2 separate regions of the Homo sapiens genome follow, and region 2 is linked to region 1. Evidence: fine-mapped expression QTL. Tissue or cell type: whole blood. Region 1 holds a variant in brackets; the other region holds the start of a gene. All regions are shown on one strand. Distances are between the middles of the regions.

Region 1 (8,105 bases):
AGGGAGTCCCAGAGAAAATGGTGCAAGGAGCAATGCCCAGTGGCCAGCCATCCTCAATGTCATGGCCCCGGAGGCCAGAACAGTAGAGAAATTCAAGGTGCGGAGACCGGCTCCCTCACATGGGCAACCTGGCCCACTGGCTCTTACCATTCATATATCTGTGAACATGGCCTTATTTGGAAATAGTATCGTAGCAGATCTGATTATGTAAAGATGAGGTCCTTTTGGATTAGAGTGGGCCTCATAAGACAAGGGGGTTGGGGCGCACAGACACACACCTGCCCTGTGGGCAGGTGAGGAAACTGGAGCAAATGCCAGCTCCCTGAACAGAACAGAGTGAGCCTGACAGTTGGGCATCTGTCCAAACCACACGAGCAGGCCCGGCAGGAAAAGTACCTGTCCAGTGGACAAGCGGCCCATGCAATCAGGACAGCTGGGAAGAGGCTGATGCTTTCAGCCACGCTTCATCTCCTTGTCCTCATTTGGGCAGAGGTAAAGAAAGAGCACTACTGGCTGCACATGGTGGCTCACGCCTGTAATCCCAGCACTTTGGGAGGCTGAGGCAGGCGGATCACTTGAAGTCAGGAGACCAGCATGGCCAACATGGTGAATTCTCATCTCTAACAAAAATACAAAAATTACCCGGGTGTGGTGGCACATGCCTGTAATCACAGCTCGGGGGACTGAGGCAGGAGAACTGCTTGAACCCAGGAGGCAGAGGTTGCAGTGAGCCGAGATCTTGCCACTGCACTCCAGCCTGGACGACAGAGCGAGACTGTCTCACATACATACATACATGCAAAAAATATTTTAAAAATAAAAAAGAAAGCGCACTGCCTAGCATCACTTTGGCAGATTCATCTCCACAACCTGTGATCATCCTGTTCAGTTGTTATGATTTGGACTAGGTGGGCCCATGGCTCAAAGGGTGGGAGTGTGACCCACGCTAGCCCATCAGGATACCACGAAGCCCTGGACACAGCAGTGGGGTGAGGCGTGAGCATGGGCCTTGTGTAAGCAGGAGTAGACTCCTAGTGGAAGGGTTGCTGCGGACTTTGGGGGAGACTGTTTCTTCTGGGATTGTCTTCTGTAAGCCAGATGCAACCAGGGTGGGCAGAGAGTAATCGTAGCCACCTCACAGTGAGATCCTTCCTGAGAATGAAGCAGGACATGCTCTCTACCAAGGACAGTAAAGCCACTCCACTCTACTTCAGACATTGCAAGCAGATAGACTCCCTGTTCCTCCTTTAAGCCAGAGGTTCTCTGACACTCTCAACTAGAGCTGCCCTCAAACACCTGTTGTGAGTTGAATCGGGTCCCCCCAAAAGATATGTCCAAGTCCTAACCCTAGGTATCTGTGAACATGGCCTTATTTGGAAACAGGATCTTAGCAGATCTGATTATGTAAAGACGAGGTCCTGTTGGATTAGAGTGGGCCTCATAAGACAAGGGGGTTGGGGCACACAGACACGCACCGGGGAGGATGCCACATGAAAACAGAGGCGGAGATGGGGGTGACGTGTCTACAGGCCCAGGAACACCAGGGATTGCCAGCAACTACCAGAAGCTGGGAGAAAGCCATGGAATTCCCCTCAGATTCTCTCAGAACCCCCAGAAAAAACCAACCCTCCTGACACCTGATCCTGGCCTTCCACCTTCCAGAACTGTGGGGGGAAAAATGCATGTTGTTTCCATCTGCTTTGTGGTACTTTGTTACGGCAGCCCCAGGAGACTAATGCAACACCTCACGTATGTGCTGAGCATGGCGACATCTCCCACCTCTTCCTTCCAGGAAACACGCCCAAGAGGCCTTTATGAAGGGGGAACTATGGTCTGCCATATTTACCTGAAGATGCAGTTTGGGCAGCTGTTTCCATCACATGCGGGGCCTCTGGGCTCTCCTGCCCGACTCTTCCCCAGTAGCTATGCTAAAAGCAATCTTAGAGTAGGCCCTCCTGATATCTGGCCTGGATTGCTGTAAATCATCTGCCTTCTGATTCTCTCTTGACCCATCCTCCACACCGCCTCTGTTTCCCAAATGGATTTTTATCATTCCTCGGATGAAACCTCTCTATTGATTACCTACGTTCTATAAGAAAATTCCAAGCTCTTCAACATGTCATTCAAGGGTCTGAAGAGTCTCATCTCCACTTCTCTGTGTCTTGTCTGCCCACACTTCTCTGCCACATGCCCTGTAATTTGATGATATTAAATTTTTTGATTGTAGGCTGGGGGCGGTGGCTCACGCCTGTAATCCCAGCACTTTGGGAGGCTGAGGCGGGTGGATCACTTGAGGTCAGGAGTTCAAGATCAGCCTGGCCAACATGGTGAAACCCCGTCTCTACTAAAAATACAAAAATTAGCCAGGCATGGTGGCAGGCACCTGTAATCCCAGCTACTGGGGATGCTGAGGCAGGAGAATTGCTTGAACCCAGGAAGCAGAGGTTGCAGTGAGCCAAGATCGTGTCACTGCACTCTAGCCTGGGCGACAAAGCAAGAATCTGTCTCTAAATAAATAAATAAATAAATAGCCTGTAAATGTTCCACACACTTTCACAGCTCCATGTTTTTGCAAATGCAGTTCTATGCAAAATGTTCTGCCTGCTAGTTGGCTCACACAGGATTCAGTCTAGCCCCCTTCACCTACCTGCCCTCCCATATACAGAAGAAGCTGGAGAAGTGAAATCCTCTCTTTCCTGGCTCCCTTGCTGCTAAGGATAGCCACATGACCCAGTTCTGGCTAGTGGGATATAAGCAGAAATCCACAGGAAGGTTTCTGCTTTCCTGATAAAAGGGGAAATCATAGCTGGCCTCCCCCTTTCTCCTTTCAGTGTGGACACGATGCCTGGAGCTGCTGCAGCCAACCTGCAGCCATGTCTTAGAGGACAAGAGAATTTTAGAAACCTTAGTCCCAACACCACTGAGCCAATGTACCACCTTTAGTGCCTACCTCTGGGCTTATTATATGAGAAAATAACCTTCTATTTGTTTAAACCTTACTAGTCATGTGTTCTATGACTTGCTGCTGAACGCATTTCTAATCAATACACTGGTACTGTTCATCTTTCTAGATCTTTCCAGGTAGCTTGTTGCTTCCTATGAGAAGTATTCCCAAACTTCCTGGTCAGACTATGACTTCCTCCTGGAAGCATCCATGACACTGTGTACTTACCTGGGTTGCAGTACACATCACGCTGTAACTAATTGCTTACTTCCTGCATAGGCTGTGAGCTCTGATATTATTCTTTGTGTAGAATAATATCATGCATGCTGGGACCTAGCAGAGTGGCTCACACAGAGCAGCGGCTCCTAAAATGCATCGCAAGTGAAGAATTCCATTTCCAGGAGGATATCATGCTATATTATAACCTCTGGCTAGGCTTCTCACCCTTTGAAATCTACAATGGCTGACTAAACTTGCTAACTCATTTCTATAGGCAGAATGTGCTCTGCAAGCCAATCTATCCCCCAGATATTTGTCGAGGTCTCAGGCACAAGCTGCTATGGTATGCTCTGTACAGGATAAAAAAAGAAAGAGAATATTTTAATATGGAAGTTAATGTTTCCCTTGCATGTCTTTAATAACATAGCCAAGGGTGGCCAGGCGTGGTGGCTCATTCCTATAATCCCAGCACTTTGGGAGGTCGAGGTGGGTGGATCACTTGAGGTCAGGATTTCAAGGCCAGCCTGGCCAACATGGTGAAACCCATTCTCCACTAAAAATAAAAAAGTTAGCCAGGAGTGGTGACACATACCTGTAGTCCCAGCTACGTGGGAGGCTGAGGCAGAAGAATCTCTTGAACTTGGGTGGAGATTGCAGTCAGCTGAGATCACGCCACTGCACTCCAGCCTGGGTGACAGAGTGAGACTCCTTCTCAAAAACAAACAAACAAACAAAACATAGCCATGGGTGTGGAAGCAAGACATATTTGTAATATTTGCTTAGAACGGTACTTCTCAATCCTGGCTATGTTAGAATGACATGGGAGCTTTAAAAACTACAAATGCCCAGGTCCTATTTTCAGAGAGTCTGATTCAGCTGGTCTGGTCCCCTCTCCCTAACCCCTAATCTTATTTTTTAAAGCTTCCTAGGTGATTGTAACATGTAACCAGGGTGTGCACCCCTGATTTAAAAGAAGGATAAGTGTGGACTGGGAAGATTTCTTGGAGGATGTGACCTATGGGTCTTGAAGTACAGGGGACATTTGGACAACAGGGAGAAGAGGTATTTGAGGAATGAGGATTGCTGAGTGAGGAGAGGCAGGAATAAAGCTTCAGTGTGGCTGTCAGCCAATCAGCCACACTGGGGGATTTTTAAATTTCTACTAAAAATTGAAAAATAAAAAAATAAATTAGGCAGGCTTGGTGGCATGCATCTGTAGTCCTGGTTGTTTGGGAAACTAAGGTGGGAGGATCACTTGAGCCCGAGAGGTTGAAGCTGCAGTCAGCCCTGATCACGACACTACACTCCAGCCCAGGTGACAGATTAAAACCCTGTCTCGAAAAAATTAAAACTAAAAATAAGTTCCAGCGGGCAGACAGCAGAAGGAGACGATCTCAGGAGGCAGCAGAGGCAGCGGACAGTTGGGGAAACAGCCCCAGCCCCGGGCTCAGGAGCCCTGCACTTCCGCCCTGATTTCATCCCCACTCCACTGTGTACCCTTGTGCATGGCATCCGCGGGGTCTGTCACTTCCCTACCTGCAAACCAGATGCTTCCTGCCTCCCGTGATCTTCCCGGTCTGATTTTTCACATTTGTGTTCTGAACACCAGGCCAGGCCTGCGTGAGTCAGGACAAAAGTTAGATGGCTGCCTCCCCTGTCCCGCCTGCCCCTTCCCCCACAGCCGCTACAACTATGGAATTGGCAACCTCGCTGCACTGTGCAATGCAGAGCAGGAGGCAGA[G/A]GAGGGAAGTTGGTGGGAAACGGCATGAAAGACACCGGGCGAGCAGACAGCACTGTGCGAAGGAGGAGCTGTGCCGGACCCAGGGCCCCACTGCCAGGCCACTGCGGTGAGGGGGGCTGCCCCTTGCCCAGGATGGCCTTGCACTGAGTGGAGCCACCTTGCTCCCCACAGCCAGGACTGACTGATACCAGGAGGCAAGGCCCTCGCCTCAAGGTGTGACATCACAGCTCTGCGGTGTGGCTTATGTTCCAGAACCGTCCCCGGTGGATTAAGCCAAACATAAGCTTTACTTGAGACCTCATCTTTGCTGGGCCCAGCTCTTCCCCGTATCTGTCCGCTTACCTCTCTCCAGTACAGCTTTTCCTGCACAGCGCTCGTTCAATTAACCACATTCATGTTTGTCTCAGGTTCTGTTTCTCAAGACTTGATCTAAGACACGGTGCTTTCAATAAATAAAAGAAAATGCCACGGACAGATAAAACGTGTATGGGAGGCGACCACAAAACAGGGGCTAAAGGAAACTCCCAGATTCATTTTAGAAAAAGAAGAAAAGAGAGTTACAAGAGTCTGATTGTGGGGGAGGGAAGCAGAGAAAGAGCAGCTTCCTGTTTGTGTCTGGAGTGCAGCACACTGAGCAGTGTTTTGCCTGGTTTATTTCCAAAGTATTGCAGGGCAGCTGAGAGCTTCCACAGTAAGGATCAACCCATCTTTTTGACCAGCCCCGGTCAATGAATTACCTGACTCATGCAAGTCAGTAGACTCCACCTGTTCTTTGTTTTTCGGTTTTCGTTGTCTTTTTTAAACAGAGTCTTGCTCTGTCACTCAGGCTGGAATGCAATGGAGTGATCTTGGCTCACTGAAACCTCCGCCTCCCGGGTTCAAGTGATTGTCCTGCCTCAGCCTCCTGAGTAGCTGGGATTACAGGCACGTACCACCATGCCCAGCTAATTTTTGTATTTTTAGTAGAGATGGGGTTTCACCATGTTGCCCAGGCTGGTCTCAAACTCCTGGCCTCAAGTGATCTGCCCGTCTCGGCCTCCCAAAGTGCTGGGCTTACAGGCGTGAGCCACCGTGCCCAGCCAGTAGATCCTTTATGATGTACCTCACTTAAAAGCTACATTTTAAACGGAATAGTCAAACTCCAATAATGACTGTGGTCTTTTTCCTTTTAGAGACCAGACTGATCTACTAATAGTGTAATTCAAAGATGGCTACAAAGGCCAAAACTAGCCAAACCCTCCTGGCCCACTGTGACCACTAAGGTTCCACCTACAAGGACCTAGTGAAAGTCTAATAAAAAGCTGCCTGGCTGGGTGCAGTGGCTCACACCTGTATGTAATCCCAGCACTTTGGGAGGCAGAGGCGGGTGGATCACTTGAGTCCAGGAGTTCGAAACCAGCCTGGGCAATATGGCAAAACTCTGTCTCTACAAAAAAATACGAAAATTAGCTGGGCACAATCACACACAACTGTAGTCCCAGCTACTCAGGAGACTGAGGTAGGGAGGATCGGTTGAGCTGGGAGGTGGAGGTTGCAATGAGCTGAGATCTTGCCATTGCACTCCAGCCTGGGCTATAGAGTGAGACGCTATCTCAAAAAAAAAAAAAAAAAAAAGATAACAGCACTGGGGTCGTCACCAGATCAGAAAGCCAGGAAGAGGGTGCTGCCCAGACCCAGGGTGCCTGGCACTGGCACCCAGCCCCAAGCTCAGCCCAAGCACCTCCTGCCTCTCAGGGCTGGCTGGAGTTTGCTCCCTGATGGGAGACCTGGATTACCCAACCGTCCTCAGACCATATAATACCTAAGTACTTGAGGCACTTCTGACTATTGTCAGCTGAGTCTTGGCTCAAGTTTTGTCGACAAAACGGATTAATTTATAACTAAGGTTAAAAACTCTTAAGTGAAAGTTAACTGATTCTGCCCATTTTCAGGGGAGAATGAGAGACACCTCAGAAGCAACTATGGTGGCTACTGGAGGGTCACATGAGGGATCATGTGGGGACAAGCCCAGATGGTGGACTCTTAGGGACAATTGTTTATAAAATGAGCCAAGCATGGTGGCTCACCCCTATAATCCCACCACTCTGGGAGGCCGAGGCAGGAGGATCACTTAAGACCAGGAGTCCAAGACCAGCTTGGGAACATGGCAAAATCCCGCCTCTACAAAAAATACAACAAAATTGGTGGGGCATAGTGGCACATGCCTATAGTCCCAGCTGCTCGGGAGGCTGAGGTGGGAGATCACTTGGGCCCAGGAGGTCAAGGCTATGGTGAGCGGTGATCACACGACTGTATTTCAGCCTGAGCAACAGAGTAAGACCCTGTCTCAAAAAAAATAAACATAGAAATAAAATGAGTGTGCATCTTACTAAGGTGAATGTGTTTAGAGAACAATCATAACTGACATTCACTGAGCACCTGCTGCTTCTGGACACTGCCCCATACTCTACACGTATCAGCTCAGTTAATCCTCACAATAAACAGATACTATTATCATCCCCCTCCCTTTTTATTGTGGTAAAATCTACATTACATTTGCCATCTTAACCATTTGTAAGTGTACAGTCCAGTGCCAATTAAATGCACACAAATTGTTGTGCAATCATCACCACCATCCACCTCCGGAATGGTTTCATCTTGCAAAACCATAATGCTATGCCCATTAAGCAATCATTCCCTCCTCCCCTTCCCCAGCCTCTGGCAACTCCATCTACTTTCTGTCTCTATGAACTTGACTCCTCTATGTACCTCATATAAGTGGAATCACACAGTACTTTCTTTTTGTGTCTGGTTTATTTCACTTAGCATAATGTCCTCAAGCTTCACCCGTGTTGTGTGTAGCATGTGTCCAAATTTCATTTCTTTTTAAAGCTAGATAATATTCCCTTGTACATTCAGCCGCCATTGTTTATCCGTTCATCCTTTGACGGGCACTTGAGTTGCTTCCACGTTTTGCCTATTCTGAATAGTGCTGCTGTGAACACAGGTGGGCAAGCATCCCTTCCAGCCCCTGCTTTCACTTCTTTGGGGGTAGCCAGAAGTGCAACTGCTGATATTATTTACAGAAGAAGAAGAAATCAGGTGCAGGAGATTAGGCGACTTGCCTAAGTCTGTGTGACTAAGTGTCAGAACCAGGATTCCTCCCGAGCAGACTGGCTCCAAGCTCCTGGCTCCGGACCACCGTGCTCACTGCCTCTCACT
Region 2 (8,105 bases), 59 kb after region 1:
GGAGGCTGAGGCAGGAGGATCACTTGAGCCCAGGAGGTCTAAGCTGCCATGAGCTATGACTGTACCACTGCACTCCAGTTTGGGTGACAAAGCAAGACCCTGTCTCAACAAAACAAAAAACAAAAAAGAACAAGAAAATTTGAAAAGAAAAAAAAGGCTATACTTCTCAACAACAAGAATTATACTACGATTTACACTACTACTTTGATTTTCCTTATTCGGCCCTATTGAATCTTATTCAAACATTCTTAAGGAAGTTGATAGTTTTCTTAACAATAAAACAAACTGGACAACATCCTTTTGACTTGGAAGGAGTTTGGGTATTTGCCCTGTAATTTTTAATGAAAGTGAACAGTCTCTCCACAGCGGTAAAGTTAAAAAAAAATCACAAAAATACTTCACTATTCAAATACTTCAGTAATTTGCTATTGAAACCCTGCTTTGACCCCTGAACCAAAGATAAAATCCCAAACGCAAGATAATCTGTACATTTCTTCTCCTGTTTTTCAGTTGTGCAACTTTACCCAACAAAGTCCTTCGACTTATCAGCAATTTGGATAGTACTAGATGCCTGAATAAGTTGTTTTGCCCATTGCCCAAAAATCACTTCAAGGAATTCAATGAGGCTTCTTGTTTTGTTCAGTACAGTGTTGTGTAATGAGCTAAAAAAACGAACAGAGTGAGAGGCAAGAAGGGAGTAATTAAATATGGCAATATCTAAAAGCTTTTCAGAAAGCTCACCCTATCCCACACAAAATACTTTCTATCTAGCAGATGTCCCAAAGCAACATTTTGATGTCCCATGCAGGCTGAGTGTACTTCCACCTCTGTAAGAGCTGATGTCAGCCAAGCAGGAACCGACTGGCCAAAGACATCAAACTCCTCATAGGTCTGTCAGACACCAAGATAAACAATGACATATGGCTCAGCCCCCGCCCTCGCCCCTTTTTTTTTTTGAGACAGAGTCTTGCTCTGTCACCCAGGCTGGAGTGCAGTGGCGTGATCTCGGCTCACTGCAACCTCTGCCTCCCGGATTCAAGCGATTCTCCTGCCTCAGCCGCCTGAATAGCTGGGATTACAGGCGCCCAACACCAAGCCAGGCTAATTTTTGTATTTTCAGTAGAGAGGGGGTTGTTCTCTCACCATGTTGGCCAGGCTGGTCTCGAACTCCTGACCTCAAGTGATCCACTCGCTTTGGCCTCCCAAAGTGCTAGGATGACAGGTGTGAGCCATCGTGCCCTGCCTGGCTCAGCCCTTTTTGTTGTTGTTGTTAAAGGGTCAAAGGAAGATGAAAATCCCTTTGCTTTCAGTGAAATCACGTACACCTACCAAGTATCTTCACTCATAAGAAAACTGTACAATTAAGAAACAATACTAAAAAGAAACAGAAAGGTTGGCCACCTTTGTCAATTAGGTAGAATAACACACTGACAAAATAAGACACACACACCAGCAGGAGGTTCTGCACCACTGAAAAGAAGCCGGTGCGATGGCTCAAGCCTGTAATCCCAGCACTTTGGGAGGCCCAGGCGGGCGGATGACGTGAGGTCAGGAGTTTGAGACCAGCCTGGCCAACATGGTGAGAGACCAACAACCCCCTCTCTACTGAAAATACAAAAATTAGCCTAGCTTGGTGTCGGGCGCCTGTAATCCCAGCTACATGGCGAAACTTCGTCTCTACTAAAAATACAAAAATTAGCTGGGCGGGTGGCAGGCACCTGTAGTCCCAGCTACTCGGGAGGCTGAGGCAGAAGAATCGCTTGAACCTGGGAGGCGGAGGTTGTAGACAGAGCGAGACTCTACCTCAAAAAAAAAAAAAAAAAAAAAAAAATGTCCTCAAAAGAGCAGTAGACAGGCTGAACATGAGAACCTCTGCTTTGCTCCCAGCCGGTTGTGAACTTGGACAAGGCCATTTACTCTAGACCTGTTTCTCTACAGGCAAACAACAGGAGGCAGTTAGCTAGCTCTGAAGTTTCTTCCCATTCTAAAATCTAAGACAGTATGCTAAACATGGGCAAATAACTTAAAATTGCATAGGAATATGTGATACAAGTAACGTTTAAAGACTCATACATTCATCCTAATTTACTGTGGGAAATAATATAACCATCTTACATTCTGGAATATATGACACTTAAAGGTTTTGGGAATTAACCCATCAAAACCTGGAGCAGCAGCATCCATCTTAAAATCTCCAAACTCCATCGCTACCTGGTGAGGGCTGAAACTCTCTTCCCTAAAATAATCTTCAGGCCACACTGGAAGCACCTCCCTCTTACGAAAGATACTGCATGACCTTTAAGCATCCAAGTGGTTTTGAAAAGACTTCATCTGGCCATATGCTCACTGCTCCCATTACCTCTTTCCCAAGAGTTGAATTAAAGAAAGGTTAGGCAAGAACCCTTCCAAGAAGGCTCCCGGTTCTCACGACTAGGAACAATCTGAGGACAAGATGTCTGGGCAGCGGAATGTTATGAAAAGACCCTGGCCTGGGTTGTCTATCAGCCTCGTCCGTTAACTTTCAACTGCCCGAGTGCGTTTTTAATTCCGTTTCTTTAAATGCATGGCCCCAGACTCCCTGACGTGTGCAATCTTGGGTGGTTCAGGAGGCTGCTCTCAGCTTTACTGGGCGCACAACCCATCGCTTTAAAAAAAAAAAAATCACTTGGGCAACTTCGAGAAATCTAATAAAAAAATAAAAAAGGAAAAAGGAGAAGCAAGGCACAGCCTCTCACCCCACACGTGACTGAAGCCAACCCTAGACGAGCAAATGAATTTTCCTGACAAACGTGTGGCAACAAAGGAATGCTCGCTGGGGGGCTCCCGCGCCCGCCAGACGCTGCCCGCCCGCGAGCCCCGCACACCTGATCCCCGACACGTCCCGCGGCAGCCGCCCGCCCCGCCCCGCTCCCGCGCGTCCATCCCCCGGCGTCCCCGCCGCACGTCCCCATCCCGGCCCACGTCCCCTCCGCGGCCCGCTCCGCCCACCCGGCCTCCCCGCCCCCCAGGCCCGCCCCCGCCCCGCCCCGCCCGGCTCCGCTGCTGGGGACCACCCCCCGCACCAGGGGGATCCGCGCTACCCGCGCCGCTCCCGGACCGCGAGCCCAAACGGCCCCGGGCCCAAGACCCCAGGAGGCAACAGAGAGGCCCGGAGCAAGGCAGGCGCCCCTCCTCTTGACAGGGGACGGGAGCTGTCAGTCACCTGGACATCCCATGCCTGAGCCAATGAGCTGCCTTCTCCTCCCGCCTCCCGCGCCGCGCCGGTGGCGGCGGCCGGGGCTGCTCCTCCTCCCCCATCCCCTTCACAGAGCCTCGGCCCCGCACTCACTGTTGAGGCCGGCCGGCGGGGGCAGAGACTGCTCATTTTCCTCGCAGTTGTTGTTGTTGTTGTGCAGGGGCGGCGGCGGCTCGACTAGGTGGGACGACATTGTCGGACAGCTGGCAGGACTGCGGCAGCAGCAGGACCGTCTCCGGCACTCAGGCAGCAACACAACAAGCCGAGTCCGCCGCCCCCTTTTCTGCGCCTGCGCCGTCCCTCCCCTGCCCCTGACGTCAGGGCCCGCCCAGGCCACGTGATGACAACACAACAAGCGACCGGACGGGGCAGGGGCGCTCCCCTGCGGGCCCCGGACGTGGAGACGCTCGAGTCAGGCTGACGCGCGCGCCGGGAACGAACTCTTGCGTGTGACTTGGGATGACCGGATGGGATGAGTGATGCCAGTGGCAGTGGGAGAGAGGATGAGGAGAAACGGAATGAGGAAGTGCGCTCCTGTGTTCGCGCCCGTGCCTCCTCTCACACAGGCTCCACAGTGCTTCACCCAGCCCTGCGCACGCATCTGTTTTCTACCTCTTAGGACTCACTTCTGCAATAGGTGTCTTGGGGACACAAAGGAATCCCCAAACCCAGGTGCCTCCACGTGTAAACTCCAAATAAAGCTGCTGAAACATCAACACTCCATACGGGAAACAAGGGAAGGCCGCCCCCAAATTTAATTGTTACAGAATTTTTAAAATGTCGATTACAAACACACCATCATTCTGAAAAAAAGAGAAAGAAGAAAGGGGAAGAAAGAAAAAAGAAAAATTCAGGAAAACAGAGAGAAGAAAGTACTCACCCAAATCCCATCGACTAATCGATTTCTGGGACATGACGTGGGAAGCCGTTTATCCTGTACGTGGATGACATTAAACTATGTTCCTGAGCACACCTCCTACTTCACATCTCCATGTCTTCGTCCAGTCTCCTTGGTCTGATTTATGAGTGACATATGTTTCTCGCAGTCTCTAACTTGTCTTTTAATTTGTTTTTTTCACTCTGTAGAAGCTTAAGGTTTTCATGTAATCAGATTTATCATTCTTACATGGCTTGGGGAGACAGTCACACCAAGATTACTAATCTATAATTCCCTTATAACTTTTTCTAATTTTCTTATAGGCTTAACTTTACATTTAGAGCTCTAATCCATCTGAAATTTATTTTCCATATGCTGTAAATTATTTAACTTCAATTCTTCCCAATTTTGTAGCCCATTGACCTAATAATATTAATTTTAAGCCATCCTTTCTACACTGATTTGAAATTGCACCTTTGTCACTCTCTGAATGACCACAAAAATGTGAGTCTGTTTCAGGGCTATCTGCAATACCTCTGTTAGATAACTATTAAAGTTTCTCTTCCTTTGTCTTTTTCAGATGTTAATGGCTAGTTACTCTTCAGATGAACTTAAAAATGGACTTGTCCAAGATTGACCTTGTGTTGGTAATTATTGAAGCTATGTAATACATTAAAGTATTCCTCTAATTTTTTAATATATTTGAAAAAGTCCATGCTAAAAGGTTTTTTTTAAGGATTGATTTGTCAAATCCCTTTGCAAATTCTTTTAAGATTTTGGTCAGAAATGAACTCTATTAATAGATTGAGTGCTGTTTCCGGTCATACCCGGAAGCAGGAGTTCAAGCCGCAGCTGGTAGGGATTGGCGGCTGCTGGCCATCTGAGTTTTATTAAAACTGCTCGCCGCGAAGCCAGTCTTCAGCCAGAATGTCCAGCAGAAACAACAACAAGCTGCCCAGCAACCTGACTGCAGTTACAGAATCTGATGAAGCGAGACCCACCACCCTCCATCTAGGAGTTTCTACAGCAGTATAATCACTACACATCCAATGTGGAGATTTTCAAATTGCAACCATATAAACCCGGTAAAGAACTAGCAGAGCTGGTGGTGTTTATGGCACAGAACGTCCTAAATATGTGCATCTGAATAATAGGAGAGAAAGAGAGAAACTTCAGAAGAGCCTTTGCTTTGTTATAGATTAGTTACTGCTACCCAGGGTATCTAAGTAATTTTCCTCAAGTGGTGAAAGATCTTCTGTCCTGTAATCATACTGTATTGGATCCAGATCTTCGAATGACATTTTGCAAAGCTTTGATCTTGCTGAGAAATAAGAATCTCATCAATCCATCAAGCCTGCTAGAACTCTTCTTTGAACTTCTCTGTTGCCATGATAAGCTTCTGCAAAAGACTTCATACACATATATCGTGACTGATATCAAGAATATAAATGCAAAACACAAGAATAAAGTGGATGTAGTATTGTAAAATTTCATGTATACCATGTTGAGAGATAGCAATGCAACTGCAGCCAAGATGTCTTTAGATGTTATGATTGAACTCTACAGAAGGAACATCTGGAATGATACCAAAACTGTCAATGTTATCACAACTGCATGTTTCTCTTAGGTCACCAAGATATTAGTTGCTGCTTTGACATTCTTTCTTGGAAAAGATGAAGATGAAAAACAGGCCAGTGACTCCGAATCTGAGGATGACGGACCAACAGCAAGAGACCTGCTAGCACAGTATGCTACAGGGAACAAAGTTCCCAAAACAAGAAAAAGTTGGAAAAGGCAATGAAAGTGCTCAAGAAACAAAAGAAGAAGAAAAAACCAGAGGTGTTTAACTTTTTAGCCGTTCACTTGATTCATGATCCCCAAGATTTTGCAGAAAAACTACTAAAGCAGCTTGAGTGCTGTAAGGAGAGGTTGGAAGTGAAGATGATGCTCATGAACCTCATCTCAGATTGGTGGGAATTCATAAGCTCTTCCTCTTCAATTTCTATCACTTTTTGCGAAGGTTTCTGCAGCCCCACCAAAGAGAAGTAACAAAGAACCTTCTGTTTGCTGCACAAGCATCTCATCACCTAGTACACCCAGCGATTATTCAATCATTGCTTATGACTGTGGCCAACAATTTTGTTAACGACAAGAACTCTGGAGAAGCCATGACAATAGGAATCAATGCTGTAAAAGAGACAACAGCTCAGTGTCCTCTGGCCATGACTGAAAAGCTTCTCCAAGACCTGGCTCAGTATAAAACACACAAGGATAATAATGTAATGATGTCTGCTAGAACTTTGATTCGGCTCTTCCGAACACTGAATCCTCAGATGCTGCAGAAGAAATTCTGGGGTAAGCCTACAGAAGCCTCCATAGAAGCAAGAGTACAAGAATATGGAGAATTAGATGCTAAAGGTTACATTCCAGGAGCAGAAGTTCTGGAAGTTGAGAAAGAGGAGAGTGCTGAAAATGATGAAGATGGATGGGAAAGTACCAGTCTCAGTGAGGAGGAGGATGCCGATGGCGAATGGGTTGATGTGCAACACTCTTCCAATGAAGAACAGCAAGAAATTTCCAAGAAGCTGAACACCATGCCCATGGAGGAGCAGAAAGCCAAAACTGCAGCCGTCAGCACCAGTCGAGTTTTAAGTTAGGAAGACTTCCAGAAAATCCGCATGGCGCAAATGAGAAAAGAACTTGACGCTGTCCCCGGGAAATCCCAGAAGAGGAAATATATTGAAATCGACAGTGATGAAGAGCCGAGGGGTGAATTACTTTCTCTTCCGGACATTGAACGCCTTCATAAAAAGCCAAAATCTGACAAAGAGACAAGACTAGCAACTGCAATGGCTGGAAAGACAGACCGAAAAGAATTTGTGAGGAAGAAAACCAAAGTGAATCCATTTTCCAGTTCAAAAAGTAAAGAGAAGAAAAAACAGAAGAACTTTATGATGATGTGGTATAGCCAGAATGTCTGGTCAGAAAATAAGCGTTCCTTCTGAGAAAAACAGTTGGCGCTGCGAGATGCCTTTTGAAAAGAGAAAAAGAATGAAGTAACTTCCCAGAAAGTTTTCCATTCCAAGAAGAATGCTAAGTTTGTGTCATTACTCTGAAAATTGGTAAATCAAGCATGTTTGTTTACATTAAAAAGTCCAGAAGCACTATATTATGAAAACTGCTGAAAATGTGGCAGCAATTTGGTGTTTTTATTTTGGGGACAGCTAATGATGGGAAATGTTAATGTAAATAGTGGTGGTAGTGTAATATCATTTATCATTCATGCAAAAAAAAGTATTGAGTGCCTATTAATTGTCACTGTAGATACAAAATGACTGAGTTGTAACTACCCCTTCACTCAAGGCATTGACAGCTTAGTTGTGGGGGTGGACACAGACGTGTATTTACAGTGCAGTGTAAATAGTTCTCTAGTAGAGGTAGGTCCACATTTCTATGCAGACACTGAGGCCTTATGGACTAACTCTGTGGGGATGGGGGTTATATATTCCTGTAAAACAAAGCAAAACAGGACAATTGTAACAAGAGTAAGAGGTTCTTTCTTGCATATAATAGGCTTACCTGCTGAAAACAGGCCCCTGCTGTACAGATTTTGGGTACATAATTTAGCTCTTTTAGTCAATCCAAAAGATTTAAATGACCCCCGCTTTTTTTTTTTAATGCCATGTAAAGGCTTTTTGGTTAAGACCTCACTTTTAAAATTGCCTTAAGTGTAAATAGTACCTTTGGAATGTATTTAGTTCATCATTTGAGATGCCTTCATACTGGTTTCCTCAACCTTCCTTCACCCTGTATTATTTTCAGCCCACCGTTTGTCTCAATAAAAGGTTTCTAATGCCAAATGATAAAAAAGAAATTGAGGGGATTATTGACATATTTATAGAATTGTTTTCCCAGTCAGGACTACGAGATCCCACTTTGTTCTATTTTCCTTTTAGGTGCTCCTTTCAAAAGGTTTTAAACTTTCAAAAAAAA

What was found. PIP is the estimated chance that this variant, and not a neighbour inherited with it, causes the effect.
Region 2: BNIP3L starts here. The variant in region 1 is fine-mapped to the expression of BNIP3L in whole blood (TOPMed, PIP above 0.99). The same link has a PIP of 0.9 or more in blood mononuclear cells.

Annotation. Positions count from the first base shown.
Region 1 is chr8:26,437,846-26,445,950 of GRCh38, reverse strand. No RefSeq gene overlaps it. Among named protein-coding and RNA genes, the nearest start is that of BNIP3L, 59 kb to the right of the region's middle. RefSeq lists an enhancer at 4,856-4,985. The variant G/A (reference allele first, on the strand shown) is at 4,905.
Region 2 is chr8:26,378,454-26,386,558 of GRCh38, reverse strand. It overlaps BNIP3L (BCL2 interacting protein 3 like), which reads right to left and starts at 3,505. Exons shown (of 6, transcript NM_004331.3): 1 at 3,329-3,505. The coding sequence starts at 3,428. It also overlaps the pseudogene SDAD1P1. RefSeq lists silencers at 712-1,006, 2,756-3,345 and enhancers at 3,556-3,855, 3,829-5,028.